Homo sapiens: one gene and its partner. The protein of the gene in region 1 purifies or fractionates together with the protein of each later gene. This does not show direct contact. Each region holds a gene or a part of one and is shown on either strand. Other genes may lie near its edges.

Region 1 (3,654 bases):
CACCAGGGTTTCTGTCCCACTCTTAGGAGCTCATAGCAGAAGATTTTAAAGGCATCTCAAGCGATGAAAAATGTCTAATAGAAGCTCTATCTTATAATTTGTGAGCTACTTTTTATTCTTGACACAGGAGAGAGGCTTATGGCATGTTAGAGAGGCTTAGAGCTGAGTGTGGACTTGTTGATCAGTTTGATCCAGCTGAAGTCAGTGTGGCCCGAAGCCCACGTGAACTGAAGGATAGATAGTGTGCAGAAAGACTTGCAGGAGTCCTGTGCACACATCCGCATGGAGCTGTATGCGCTTATCTGGCCAGCAACTTTGTACCAAGGCTCACTCTCACAGGGACCTGCTGCTCTCAATGCTTTCGGGTCATTATACTTTCCTGTGAAAGTATGCTAGCTGACATATGCTTACAGGAGTCACAGTTTTCTTACAGGTTTGGTTTAAGTGAGAGATCAACCCAGATTTTTGGGACATACCCACCCACACAGTGAAAATCGAGCAGTTTGTTTCATGATTCACATTGACATACATTCAATGGGTCACTGAACAGGCACCTCTTTCTGAATTTTATTCTACCTTTGCAAAAATAACATGATCAAAACATGCGAAATGACTCATTTTTGAACACAAGACTCCAAGGAGAATAAGAAAACTAAAACTTCAAACTTATATAGTGTGTTTTCCTTTCCACCTGTAAAATATCACCCCTTCTACATAGTCTTGTAGTTTGGGTACCATAAGAAACCATGATTATAAAAACTTCACATCTTTTCAGAAGAAGTTTCTTTTTGAGTCATGCTCTTTTAAACTTTAATCTGTGGAAACATTTCCCAAAGTGTGTTCTTTATAATATTAGATCTATACAGCACTGGTGGGTGTTACTCCAAAATGCTTCAGAGTGGTTCTGATCACGACTGAACGTAATTAGTGGAAAAGATTCTTTATGATAGAGCTCCTCAGAGACTTGGCTGTGAATGTTCCCAATGTATGTTGTGATTCTTCAAGAGGGGAATATAGCAAGTCGTTCTCAGTGACTTCTTTAAAGTACGGAAGACTCTTTTCTCAAGGTGCTTTGCATAAGCCTAATGTTCTGAGGAATATACTTGGGGAAACTAATTCCTAGGACTGATTTCACTTTTTTGGGCCGTAGTTTAAATGTCAACATGTGAAAAGGACTGTGGCATTTTTTTGTCTCTTTTTGGATTCTTAGGAACTTTTTTCTTTCACTTATGGTCTCTTTGGCTTTTATCTTACTGAAGCAAATGATTTTTAATACATAAGTAATACTTTTAAGTCTGATGTAAACCAGGTGATGTTTATGGGGTGGATGAAAACAACACTGAGTCGACATTTGGGAGGTTTGGGAAGTGCCAGGAATTACTAGTAGACCAAAATTGATTTTAACATTTTATCCTTTCTTTAGCTTAAAGACTCCACCTGTTCCCCCTGACCCCATTAAAATTTATAGGTTCTCTCCTTTTTCTCTGAACCAGAAAAAGAAAATTTTAGCTTACCTGAAAATAGTTAATCACAGAGCTGAACTCTTTAACCAAATATAGTTTCAAGATGTTACACAGGCTAATTGTGAGTCCAGGATCTTTTAATCAGTCCGTTTACTTTCTTACCTTTTGTTTTTTGAAGAATTTGGAAGTCCTTCTCTTTACCTATATGTTAAAGCTCTCTCATAATCATATGTTAAGACTTAATACAGAATTTATCATAATTGTTTCCATTTAATTTACCTGATAAAACTTGATAGAAATACCTAAACGAGAAATATCATGTAATGTTTCATAGGGCCTAGTATAAATAAGTGAAGTATTTGTGCTCACATTTGTTAAGTAGATGTTTTTTAAGAAATGTTTTGGATTTCTTTTTTTGTATTAGGAAAAGAATGAAAGATATCTTCTACTCTTCCCAAATGTTTTGCTAATGTTGTCTGCCAGTCCTAGGATGAGTGGCTTTATCTATCAGGTAAAACACAATTTAAATTTATATTTTATTGTGGATCTGAGGATAATTTCAAACTGGCTTTGAATTTTGTGTTAAATATTACGTGTATCTATCTGTGTATGTGCTGTGTGTGTAGTGCTGTATATTCAGATATGGACGTACAGCTCCTGTTTGTGTTTCGTTGTGACTGCAAGCATATCCTATGTTAATTTCAAAAAAGGAAAGAAGTGTAAACTGTAGAGCAACCTCATAAGGACACAGACTACTGTGGCACAAGTCAGTCTCTGTCATTGCCTTCTGTCGTTTCATGCAAAATACCTTGCTCCTCCTTGCTATGGTTTTATTCTGTGAAATTGGTTCAAGTAGGGCTTGTGGGTTAGTGGGGTAGTGTAGACTAAGATCTTGTGTCAGTGGCACGGCACCGCCCAAATGCATCAGCAAACAGAAAGTGATGTAAGGGTGTAAGTAGCAGTGTGTGATCGTTGAACCTTTTTAATTTTTGTTTCCCTGCTTCTCTTTGAGAAAATGTGACAGCAGATTTGGGAAGGAGGTGCAAGGGTGAGCAGGGCCTTTTCTGTTGCGACAGTGGTTTATAGTGGTGGTATATGAAGGAGCTGGTATTTTCGCTGTCTGTCTAGTAGATGCACTTGGCAGGTTTCATTCTTCTTTTTCTGGGAAGTTACAGAGGCTCATATCCTTCCCATCAACTTTCTGAGGACTGGCCAGTCACCACGTAACCACTGCAGCAGAAGCCGCCACTTCGTGTTCTCTGGGTTGCATTTCATTGTAGCACGTGTTGTTTTGTGTTGGCGCAGCAAGGACGTTCAAGATCCCTAAGCAGACACTATGCCCTCACAGAGGCTCTGCCGACACCCAGAGAGGACTTGTGGCCATACGCTTACACCAACACACGTGCTTTAGAATTGGTGAATCACATATGTAGGAACAGACTCAGGAAAGTGAGGCTGTAGTTTGTTAGGCCACTGCTGAAGAGAGGTGATCTGTGGCTAGGATAGTGCCCACTACAGTTTCCCCCAAACTAGCAGCTACTTCTGTGTTAAATGACCTTGATAAACCTAAATCTCTGTCCTTTCTGGTCAGCACTATCTGGCTTCCGATTTTATATCCCCAGAATCTCATTCCAGTGGCTGGAGGCAGGGGCCTTCTCTAACCTAAGGAGAGAAGAGGTTGTCACTTGTGGCAGGCTTGAGTCTCTGCCTGTGTGGCTGGTGCTTACACTGGATTTGCCCTTGATGTGTTGACAGACTGCTGGAGCTCATCTCAACAACAGGATTTTATTTTTCCATTCTTAGCACAGTGGTGACCCATGGTCTCTGTATCATTGGTATCCGTTTCTACCATTAGAACACTGGCTTTGGGGGATGCCAAAAAGTGTTCGGTCCAGCCACAGTCATAGTGTTCTATACACCGATGTTCAGAGGGGCTAGGTTAAACACAGTTGTGCGGTTTCATTTTCTGTAGGACTTACAGCTGTTAAAGTACTTATATGCATTACGAATCTTGGAAAGGAGTTCACAGTGTGTAGCATTTTTTAAATACGCTTGGCCACAGAAGTGTCCAGCAGTCTCCTCTTCCACCGGCCATGCTTTAGGATGAGATTTCTCAGCCTGGGCACTGCTGACGTTCTGGACTGGATCGTTCATGGCCAGGGGCTGGGGGTCTCGGTGAGACTGTCCTGGG
Region 2 (3,654 bases), on another chromosome or scaffold:
TTTCTCCCTAGGGACTTGGAGGTCTGGCTGTTCCGAGCGCCGACTCATTCCCTTTGGGCCTGTCATTACCTCTGCCTCACCTTGACTCTCCCCAGGGCCCCGTGATCAAGGTGAACAGCAAGCAACGCTATGCTTCAAACGCGGTGTCAGAGGCCCTGATCCGAGAGGTGGCCAACAAAGTCAAGGTCCCCCTGCAGGTGAGGGTGGGCCCTGCCTGGGAAGGTGTGATGGAGGGAGCTTGGTGGGGGCACAAACAGATGGGCCCCCCATGAACAGGGAACCTGGTAGATGGCCTTGAGTGGAGGGGGGTCCCAGTAGAGTGAGAAAAGCAGGGATTTTGGATACAGCTGGATTCCATGCTGGCTCTGCTGCAGTGCTAGCTGTGTGACCTTGGACTAGTCTCCTAACCTTTCTGAGTCTCAGTTTCCACATCTGTAGAATAGGGGTGATAGTGATGCCTACTTTGCTGGATTTCTATGAAGACTGAAGGTACAGTGTGCTCCTGGCACATGGTAGGCCTGTCTTTCCCTGCAGCACCCCCACTTCCCCTGTGTCTCCTACACACCCTGGGGGCTTCCACAGGGAAAGTTCAGGGCTGGGGAGTATGGAACTCCAACTACTCATTTTCTCTCTTGCCTGAGAAATTAGACATCTAGTCCTTTCTCCTCAGTGTGTGTGTGTGTGTGTGTACATATATATGTTGTATACATGTATGTATATAACACATGACAGTATTGTGTATACACATATACACACATATATACTGTCATGCATTGCTTAACAACAGGGATACATTCTGGGAAATGGCATCATTAGGCAATTTTGTCATTGTGTGAGCATCATGGAGTATATGTACACAAACCTAGACGGACAGCCTGCTGCACACCTAGGTTGTGTGGTGTAGCCCATTGCTCCTAGGCTACAAACCTGTACGGCTTCTTACTGTGCTGAAAACTGTAGGTAACTGTAACAAAATGGTCAGTGTATCTAAACATAGAAAAGGTACAGAAGGCCAGGCGTGTTGGCTCACACCTGTAATCCCAGCATTTTGGGAGGCCAAGACAGGCAGATCACTTGAGGTCAGGAGTTCAAAACCAGCCTGGCCAACATGGTGAAACCCCATCCTACCAAAAAATACAAAAATTAGGCAGGCGGAGTGGTGCATGCCTGTAGTCCCAGCTACTTGGGAGGCCTTCCCTACTTGGGAAGGATCTCTTGAGCCCGGGAGGTGGACGTTGCAGTGAGCCGAGATCGTGCCATTGCACTCCAGCCTGGGCGACAGAGTGAGACCCTGTCTCCAAAAAAACAAAACCAAAAAAAAAAAAAAAAGAAAAGAAAAAGAAAAGTTACAGGAAGCATATGGTATAAAAGATTTAAAATGGTCCACCTGTATAGGGCACTTAGGAATGGAGCTTACGGCACTCGAAGTTGCCCTGGGTGAGTGGTGAGTTAATGTGAAGGCCTAGGACATTACTGTACACTATTGCAGACTTTATCAATGCCGGACACTTAGGCTACACTACATTTATTTTGAAAATTGTATTTCTTCAACAATAAATTAGTTTACTGTAACTTTTTAACTTTATTTATTTATTTATTTATTTATTTATTTTTGAGATGGAGTCTCACTCTGTCACCCAGGCTGGAGTGCAGTGGCACGATCTCGGCTCACTGCAACCTCTGCCTCCCAGGTTCAAGCGATTCTGCCTCAGCCTCCTGAATAGCTGGGATTACAGGCACGCACCACCATGCCTGGCTAATTTTTGTATTTTTAGTAGAGACGGGGTTTCACCATGTTGGTCAGGCTGGTCTCGAACTCCTGACCTTGTGATCCGCCCGCCTCGGCCTCCCAAAGTGTTGGGATTACAGGTGTGAGCCACTGCACCCGGCCAACTTTTTTACTTTATAACCTTCCATTTTTAAAATTTTTGACTCCTTTGTAACAACAGTTGGCTTAAAACACAAACACATAGTACAGCTATTCAAAAGTATTTTCTTTTTTGTATCCTTATTCTGTAAGCTTTTTTCTATTTTTAAAATTTTTCGTTATTTTTAAAATTTTTAAACTTTTTGGTTAAAAACCAAGACACAAACATACACATTAGCCTAGGCCTATACAGGGTCAGGATTATCAATGTCCCTGTCTTCCACCTCCACATCTTGTCTCACTGGAAGGTCTTCAGGGAGAGTGACATGCAGGGAGCTGCTATCTACCATGATAACAATGTGCTCCTAAAGGACCTGCCTGAGGCTGTTTTACAGTTAACTTTTTTTTTTTTTTCTAATAAGTAGGAGTACATTCTAAAATAACAGTAGGCTGGGCATCGTGGCTCATGCCTGTAATCCCAGCACTTTGGGAGGCCGAGGCGGGTGGATCACTTGAGGTCAGGAGTTCAAAACCAGCTGGCCAACATGGTGAAACCCCGTCTCTACTGAAAATACAAAAATTATCTGGGCATGGTGGTGTGCGCCTGTAATCCCAGCTACTCAGGAGGCTGAGACAGGAGAATCGCTTGAACCCAAGAGGCAGAGGTTGCAGGGAGCCAAGATGGTGCCATTGCACTCCAGCCTGGGCGACAAGAGTGAAACTCCATCTCAAAATAAATAAATAACAATAAAAAGCATAATATAGTAAACACATAAACCATAACATAGTCATTTATTATTCTTAGGTATTGCATACTGTACATAATTGCACGTGTTATGCTTTTATACGACTGGCAGTAGATTTATTTACGCCGGCATCGCCACAAACAAGTGAGTCATGCATTATGCCACAACATCGCAACAGCTGTGATGTCACTAGGCGACAGGAATTTTTCAGCTCCATTATAATCTTACGGGACCACTGTCATATGTAGTCTATCTTTGACTGAAATGTCACCATGTAGTGCATGACTGTCTATTTCTATATTTATCTGTCTACCTCTCTATATCAGGGACTCAGGCATGGGCGGTCCAGTGACAATCATAGCAGGTGTAGAACCGTGGTATCCTGACTCCCAGCCCAGGGCTCTTTCTGCTGCACAGTGTTCACTCTTCCTTTCGGAAAGCTGAATTGTTCTGCCCCCAGGAAGCCTTCTCTGAGGACGTGATATTTGAGCTGAGACCTAACCACTGAGAAATAGGCAGCTATGGGAGGGTCCCAGCCAGAGGGCACAAGTAGAAAGGCCCCAAGGGGGGCCAGGAATGAGCTCGTCTTTTAGGAGGAGAGAAAGGCAGGATGGTAGAGCCAGGATGAGAGCAGGAGAGGGTTAGGGGAGAGGCCCAGCTCAGTGATGATACAGGAATACCTAGGCCATGGAAGGACATTTCAATTTTATTCTAAGGCAGTGAGAAGACATTGGGAGATTTTTCTTTAATAATTTACAGCAGAAGTAGGACACATGTATTTTAGAAAATTAGAAAATACAGATAGAGATGAGAAAATAAAACACTAATCTGCAGAAATTTGGTATAGTCTTCCAGATTTTTTTCTATGCATAAACTTCATATACACTTTTTTAAAATGATATTATATTGGATATATTTTTGTTGCCTCTTTTCACTCAGTCATCTTCACCTTTCTATTTGAGTTTGGTTTTTTTTTTTAATGTTTTTTTAAAATTAGAAACAGGGTCTTGCTTTGTCTCCCAGGCTGGAGTGCAGTGGCAT

Evidence for each region. The genes of interacting proteins can lie anywhere in the genome.
Region 2: the proteins of ARHGEF7 (region 1) and DNPEP purify together in Homo sapiens (affinity purification with mass spectrometry; one large-scale study listed by BioGRID and IntAct). This does not show direct contact.

What each region holds. Positions count from the first base shown.
Region 1 is NC_000013.11:111,275,700-111,279,353, forward strand, and holds part of ARHGEF7 (rho guanine nucleotide exchange factor 7), read left to right. Parts: intron 1-1,887; coding exon 1,888-1,974; intron 1,975-3,654. UniProt on the Homo sapiens protein: Acts as a RAC1 guanine nucleotide exchange factor (GEF) and can induce membrane ruffling. Functions in cell migration, attachment and cell spreading. Promotes targeting of RAC1 to focal adhesions. May function as a positive regulator of apoptosis.
Region 2 is NC_000002.12:219,377,878-219,381,531, reverse strand, and holds part of DNPEP (aspartyl aminopeptidase), read left to right. Parts: intron 1-95; coding exon 96-197; intron 198-3,654.